Linked DNA regions of Homo sapiens. The protein of the gene in region 1 binds, or shares a complex with, the protein of each later gene. Each region holds a gene or a part of one and is shown in the gene's direction. Other genes may lie near its edges.

The links.
Region 2: POLR2F (region 1) and GTF2F1 share a complex: the UniProt entries of both Homo sapiens proteins name them as parts of the TBP-based Pol II pre-initiation complex.

What each region holds. Positions count from the first base shown.
Region 1 is NC_000022.11:37,963,554-37,967,302, forward strand, and holds part of POLR2F (DNA-directed RNA polymerases I, II, and III subunit RPABC2), read left to right. Parts: intron 1-3,545; coding exon 3,546-3,617; intron 3,618-3,749. UniProt on the Homo sapiens protein: DNA-dependent RNA polymerase catalyzes the transcription of DNA into RNA using the four ribonucleoside triphosphates as substrates.
Region 2 is NC_000019.10:6,386,432-6,390,180, reverse strand, and holds part of GTF2F1 (general transcription factor IIF subunit 1), read left to right. Parts: intron 1-477; exon of another isoform or gene 478-543; coding exon 544-737; intron 738-2,621; coding exon 2,622-2,792; intron 2,793-3,749. UniProt on the Homo sapiens protein: TFIIF is a general transcription initiation factor that binds to RNA polymerase II and helps to recruit it to the initiation complex in collaboration with TFIIB. It promotes transcription elongation.

The sequences.
Region 1 (3,749 bases):
CCACATTTCAAGTGTGTTCAGTAGCCACATGTGGCTACTGGTTACCATAAAGGATAGCACAGGGGGATAGGACATTTCTGTCATTGCAGAGCATTCTATGGGGCACACTAATATAGGCTAAAAGTGGCCCAGTAGAAAGAAGAATTCATAAGTTATTTTTAAAACAAATAGACTGCTTATTTGCAAGTTAAACAGTCTTTCAGCACTGAAGAAAGATACTGCATTAGCACTTGATAGGATGCTGAGATGATTAAAGATGTAGTCCCAGCCGGGCGCGGTGGCTCACGCCTGGAATCCGAGCACTGTGGGAGGCCAAGGTGGGCGGATCACCTGAGGTCAGGAGTTCGAGAGCAGCCTGGCCAACATGGTGAAACCCCGTCTCTACTAAAAATACAAAAATTAGCCGGGTGTGGTGGCGCGCGCCTATAATCCCAGCTACTCGGGAGGCTGAGGCAAGAGAATCGCTTGAACCTGGGAGGCGGAGGTTGCACTGAGCCAAGATCGTGCCACTAATCCAGCCTGGGTGACAGAGTGAGACTCTGTTACCAAAAATAATTAAAAAAAAAAAAAAAGACATAATCCCCAGTCCTCCAGGTGTTTTCTGGTGGGGGAGATAGACCTGTGCACAGGTACCCACAACCCAAGGCAGATGCGAGTGGTGCTTTATGAAAGGTACAAAGAGAGTTATTGCAGAGGTGACTGGGAAAGCCTTGTGAAGGGATTAGAATTCTAGTGGGGACAGGTAAAGAGAGTTGGTTTTGTGGGTACTCCAGGTGCCAGAAACAGCCCAAGGAAAGGTCCAGGTGGAGGCAGGCAGTTGTGGATTTGTGATGAGGGATCATAAGCAGCTTGGGGCATAAGGCTGGAGAAGATGACACTGGTCCTGTGAGTGACAGGTTCAGAAGATTAGAGTTCATTTGGTGGGCAGTGTGCAGCACTTAAAGGTTTTGAGGCCAACATCCAGCATCCAGGCCACTCATAAATCCAAGTGTCCTGTTTTTCTTTTCTTTCTTTCTTTCTTTTTTTTTTTTTTTTGAGATGGAGTTTTGCTCTTGTTGCCCAGGCTGGAGTGCAATGGCATGATCTTGGCTGATTGCAACCTCTGCCTCCTGGGTTCAAGGAATTCTCCAGCCTCAGCCTCCTGAGTAGCTGGGATTACAGGCACACGCCACCATGCCTGGCTAATATTTTGTATTTTTAGTAGAGACGGTGTTTCACCATGTTGGTCGGGCTGGTCTTGAACTCGTGACCTCAGGTGATTCACCTGCCTTGGCCTCCCGAAGTGCTGGGATTACAGGCGTGAGCCACTGTGCCCAGCCAAGTGTCCTGTTTTTCTTGGGGAGCAAAGCTTGATCCAGCTCATTCCAGTCTTTAGTGCTCTTTCCACTTAAGGGCTATGACACCATCTGGTGGCTCCTTGCCTGCTGTAAGCTCTTGTACAGCCATAATGGGACTCTGCACTTGGTAGGTGCAGGTGGAGTCTCACTCTGTCACCTAGGCTGGAGTGCAGTGGTGCCATCTCGGCTCACTGCAACCTTCACCTCCTGGTTCAAGCGATTCTCATGCCTCAGCCTCTCGAGTATCTGGGACTACAGGCATGTGCCACCACGGCCGGCTAATTTTTTGTATTTTTAGTAGAGACGGGGTTTCACCATGTTGGCCAGGCTGGTCTCAAACTCCTGACCTCAGGTGATTCACCTGTCTCAGCCTCCCAAAGTGCTGTGATTAGAGGCGTGAGCCACTGCACCTGGCCAGAACAACTGTTTGTTGGGTAGGTTTTGGATGGGGTTTCAGTCTGGTTCATTAGCACCACCTGGTGGCTGATGATGTTTGTCACATCTACTTCTTAACTGGATGGTTGATGTGTTTCTCTGTAGAAGCCATGGTGCAAGAAAAATTAAATTACTTAAGGACACATTCTTGCACATTCCATGTGCATAATAGGTGCGGAATGAGTGAATGCCCTTGAATTATTTATATTTTGAAAGAAAGCAGGCACATGCAGATCAGGTATTTTGCCACATTCTTTAAAGCTTTATATTTTGGGAAAGTTTAAATACTTATTAAGAGAGGATATAGGGAAAGTTAAATACTTCATCTCTGCCCTTGGGAAATTTTCAGGCTTTTGGGAGTAATATAAATCGAAATATTTAGTAATAAAATTAGTAAGCTGGTAGCTCTCAGACTAGCTGATTATCAGAATCATCTGGGCAGTTTTGCAAATGCAGGCTCTCAGGCCGCTTCACTAGAGATTCTATTCCGGGGGTCTGGGGAAGGACCCAGGAACCTGTATTTTTTAGCATGCTCTCCTGTTAATTCTGGATTTGTTGGTGTGAACCTGAGCTGGAATCATCAGGGGTGGCTTCCTAGAGGAGATGGGCCTAGAATTGGCATCCCTTTGCTTGGTGGTAGAGTCCCCACTGTGGGCCAAGTGTTATGCTGGGGGCTGGGCCTCCGTGGTGAATCACATGTGGTTCTGGGCCACTAGGAGCTCATGGTCTAATGTGGAAAGTTTCCAAACAAGTAGTTACAGTTCAATGAGATTGGTGCCAAGAAAAGTATATGCAAAATGAGTCCAGGTACTGAAGAGTCAGCACACGATTTCCAGGGTGGAGACATCTGAACCTCTCGCAGGTTTTTAGGGAGAGGAAGAGCTTGTAAGAGCACACAAAAGGGAAACAACATGGCGCATCTAGGGAACCAGAAATAGTTTGGTATGGCTGGAATGTGGAGTAAATACAGGAAAGTAGCACGGGACTGTGCTAGGAAGGCAAACAGGGACCAGACTGCACTCTGGCCTGATAGCCAAGGGGAGTCATGACAGTGTTGTAAGCAGGTGAGCCCCCTGACTGCTGGCCTCAGGTGAAGGGTGGGGAGGGCTGGGCAGGAAGGGCAGGGCCTCTACTGAGGTGTTGTGTCTATAGAGAATGGAAATGATGCCGGGCATGGTGGCTCATGCCTTTCATCCCAGCAATCTGGAAGGCTGAGGCAGGCGGATTGCTTGAGCCCAGGAGTTCGAGACCAGCCTGGGCAACATGGCGAAATGTTAATTTCACCCATCTATACAAAAAATAAAAAAATTAGCATAGCTGGTGGTGTATGCCTGTAGTCCCAAGCAGGAGAATTGCTTGAGCCTGGGAGGTGGAGGTTGCAGTGAGCCACGATCTCCCCATTGCACTCCAGTCTGGGCAATGGGAGTGAAACCTTGTCTCCAAAAAGTAGAGAGAGAAAATAGAAATTGAAATGAGGTGCACTGGGCACTGAGGCAAGGCTCTGGGGTTGGAGCAGTTAGAATGGTGTGCCTTTGCACATGTCTCCCTTTCCACCAGGACATTCTGCTGTGGCCGCTGGACTCCGGAGTCTGTGATAGGCCTCTGCCAGGGAAGATCTCTGGCAGTGCCCCTACACACCACTCCCTACTGTGCCTGCCTACCTAGAAGATGACGTTTCTAGGTGGGGACCAGGATGCCGTTCCACCCTCACTGCCTGTTGGGCCCTTCTCCCTGGGTTTGTAGTCTCCCTAACACCTGTCCCTATCCCTACAGGATGTGTGCCCCTGTGATGGTGGAGCTGGAGGGGGAGACAGATCCTCTGCTCATTGCCATGAAGGAACTCAAGTAAGTCACTCAAATCATGGTTCACTTCTCCAAATCTCTGGGAGGCATCTGTTGGGCTCTCTGTTGCACCCTTTGCTCCCACTTGCCTGGCTGGAGAAGTTGATGCTTATTCCTACAGATCCTTAGGAACAG
Region 2 (3,749 bases), on another chromosome or scaffold:
CAGGTTCAAGCCATTCTGATGCCAGGCTGGTCTTAAACTCCTGAGCTCAAGTGATCCTTCTGCCTTGGCCTCCCAAAGTTCTGGGATTACAGGTGTGAGCCACAGCACAATGAGTTTCGATATGCATGCATTCTGGAGAGATGTGTGGAAATTCTAGGTACTTAGACATTTTTTGAAAAGAATCCTGGAACCAGATGCCTGCTGTAGATAATAGGGAAGTCTAATTAATTACTTCTACATTCCTCAGATAAGGAATTTTGCCTCCGATGGCCTGCTTGATGGTCACCAGGTGGTCTTTTTCTCTTTAATTTTAATTTGGAAATAATTTCAAGCTTTTAAGTTGCAAAAATAGAGCGCAAGGCTCGCCCAAATTCCCTTTACCCAGATTTGTCAAAGGCTACCGTTCTCCTCCCTTGTTGCCAAGTGGTAAGTTGGTTTTGAGAATCTAGAGCTTGGCCTAGGGCAAGGAAGGGCGTTCCTGGAGGGGGGCACTGCGCAAGCAAAGCCAGGGACCCTGAGAGGCTTTGCTTCCTGCTCCCCTAGGCTCGGCTGGAGCGGGACTTGAGCAACAAGAAAATCTACCAAGAGGAGGAGATGCCCGAATCGGGCGCGGGCAGTGAGTTCAACCGCAAGCTTCGGGAGGAGGCTCGGAGGAAGAAGTACGGCATCGTCCTCAAGGAGTTCCGGCCCGAGGACCAGCCCTGGCTGCTCCGGGTCAACGGCAAATCAGGCAGGAAGTAAGTGGTGGGGCGGTGGCGGTGCCGGCTTAGTGACCAGTCCACATCCCCAGGCCTCAACTTACATACTTTGTGGGGTACCCTCTCTGAACCTCAGATTCCCACTGCTGCAGTGGAAGTGCTGGCACTTCCATCCCTGTAGGATTTTATTATTTATTTATTTATTTATTTATTTATGTTATCTTATTTTACTTACTTGTATTTTTTTGAGACAGAGTCTTGCTCTGTCGCCCAGGCTGGAGTGCAGTAGCACGATCTTGGCTCACTGCAACCCACACCTCCCAGGTTCAAGTTATTCTCCTGCCTGAGCCTCCTGAGTAGCTGGGATTACAGGTGCCTGCCACCACCACGCCCAGCTAATTTTTGTATTTTTAGTAGAGACAGGGTTTCACCATATTGGTCAGGCTGGTCTCGAACTTGGCGATCCTCCCGCCTCGGCCTCCCGTAGTGCTGGGATTACAGGCGTGAGCCACCGTGCCCAGCCTACTTATTTATTTTGAGACAGGGTCTCACTCCGTTGCCCAGGCTGGAGTGCAGTGGTGCGATCGTAGCTCACTGCAGGCTCCAACTCCTGGGCTCGAGATCTTCCCACCTCAGCATCCTGAGTAGCTGGGACTATAGGCACGCCCCACCATGCCTGGCTAATTTTTGTATTTTTGGTAGAGATGGGGTCTTGCTGCGTTGCTCAAGCTGGTCTTGAACTCCTGGGGTCAAGTGATCCTCCTACCTTGGTCTCCCAAAGTGCTGGGATTATAGGTATGAGCCACTGCCCAGGCCCTGGGGTTGTGTTTTTGAAGACAGTTCACTGAGTTGGTGCTTGTGCCTGGCTCTGAGGCAGCTCTGAGTGCCACAATGCAGGAAGCTTAGGTGGCCAGCCCTGGGAGCTCATGACACTTGAGATGACCTCTCAGAGGGGGCAGACTGAGGGCAGAACAGGAGGGGTCCAGGTTAGGTTGATGAAGGGTGCTCCAGGCACAGCAGTTGGGTGATAGTGACAGACACAGGCAGCTCACACAGGGCAGTGGGTGCCAGGATGTGCTGGGTCCAGCGGAGCCTTGGAAAGCTGTAGGCAGGGAAGAGGCACTCACCCAGACTGTCCGGAACTTTGGGGTAGAAAAGAATGAGGTAGAGGCCTCAAGGAGGCTGGGCAGTTGTTTAGGCTTGAGGAAATGGTGGCCCGGGCCAGGTGTCCACTTCAGATTTGGCCATGCCATGGCTGGGCGCGGTGGCTCACGCCTGTAATCCTAGCCCTTTGGGAGGCAGAGGCGGGCGGATTACGTGGGGTCAGGGGTTCGAAACTAGCCTGGCCAACATGGTGAAACCCTGTCTCTACTAAAACTACAAAAATTAGCTGGGTGTGGTGGCAGACACCTGTAATCCCAGCTACTCGGGAGGCTGAGGCATGAGAATTGCTTGAACCCGGGAGGTGGAGGTTGCAGTGAGCTGAGATGGTGCCACTGCACTCCAGCCTGGGTGCCAGAGCGAGACTCCATCTCAAAAAAAAAAATTTGGCCATGCCTTCCCGCCCCATCTTCTCACTTGGCTCCTCAGTTTCCCGGGTGTGGCCCACAGATAGCAGAGCTGGAGGCAAATGTAGACAGTTTGACTGCAGGGTTGGGCTCTCCTGAGATAATCTCACACAGTCTTTCCAGAAATGATCCCGATGTGCACACGCCCAGCACTTTGCAGGGTAGGTGCGCCGGCCCTGTTCCCCAGATGTGGAAATTGACGAGGCCCAGGTGGTTGAAGGGCCTGCCCAGGCCTCATGGGCATTTCTTGGTCTTCCTCCTATGGCAAGTGCCATAAAGGAGGCAGGCCCCGGGGGGACACGGGGGGGCTGGGGCTGGTCCCTATGGGCCAGGCCATGACCGTGGCTCCCTGCAGGTTCAAGGGCATCAAGAAGGGAGGCGTAACAGAGAACACGTCCTACTACATCTTCACCCAGTGCCCCGACGGGGCCTTCGAGGCCTTCCCCGTGCACAACTGGTACAATTTCACACCGCTGGCCCGGCATCGCACGCTCACTGCCGAGGAGGCCGAGGAGGAGTGGGAGAGGTGAGTGGGCTGGGTGGTGGCTGGGGACAGAAGTGAGGGAAATGGGGTGCCTTGCCATGGATATATCACCAGGCCCTGTGCTGGGAGCTGGGGACTCAGGGGTAACCAGGGCAGACCCCACTCGGCCGTCTCAGAGCTGTCAGTTCAGGAGGAAACAGATAGGAGGCCTTAGGGCCACAATGGGGCACCCCAGAGGGTGCTGCCAGAGCCAGAGTCTGTGACCCGGAGCTCAAATTGGCAGAGCAGGGTGGGGTCTAACTGCCCCCTTGGCTTTCCGCAGGCTGCAGGTCACACAGCCTGATCCACTGCAGGGCAGCAGCTCCAGGCAGGGCACCCGAGGAGGGTTTCTCTAGCAGTGACATCGGCCTCAGAGGTGGGGCGGGTGCAGTTAAGGGCTGTGGAGGGACACAGTGCATGAGGCCAGTGCAGAGTGACTGTGGGCAGGGGGACGAGGCTGGGGGCCCAGAGCACTTGGTCTTGGATGTATGGCTTTGGATGAGACCGTAGGGCCACCACCACCCTAGGGTGCTTGCAGATGGTGGGGAGGGCACTCTGGACGCATCTACAAATGGCATTTGCACAGGTCACAGATGAGCAGATGCTCAAAGAGTCGATGGCTCCCAAAGGTTAAAAAAACACCTTTTTCGGCTGGGTGTGGTGGCTCACGCCTGTAATCCCAGCACATTGGGAGGCCAAGGCAGGCGGATCACGAGGTCAGGAGATCGAGACCATCCTGGCTAACACGGTGAAACCCCGTCTCTACTAAAAATACAAAAAATTAGCCGGGCATGGTGGCGGGCGCCTGTAGTCCCAGTACTCGGGAGGCTGAGGCAGGAGAATGGCGTGAACTGGGAGGCGGAGCTTGCAGTGATCCTAGATGTTGCCAGTGCACTCCAGCCTGGGCGACAGAGCGAGACTCCGTCTCAAAACAAAACAAATAAAACACCTTTTTCCCTC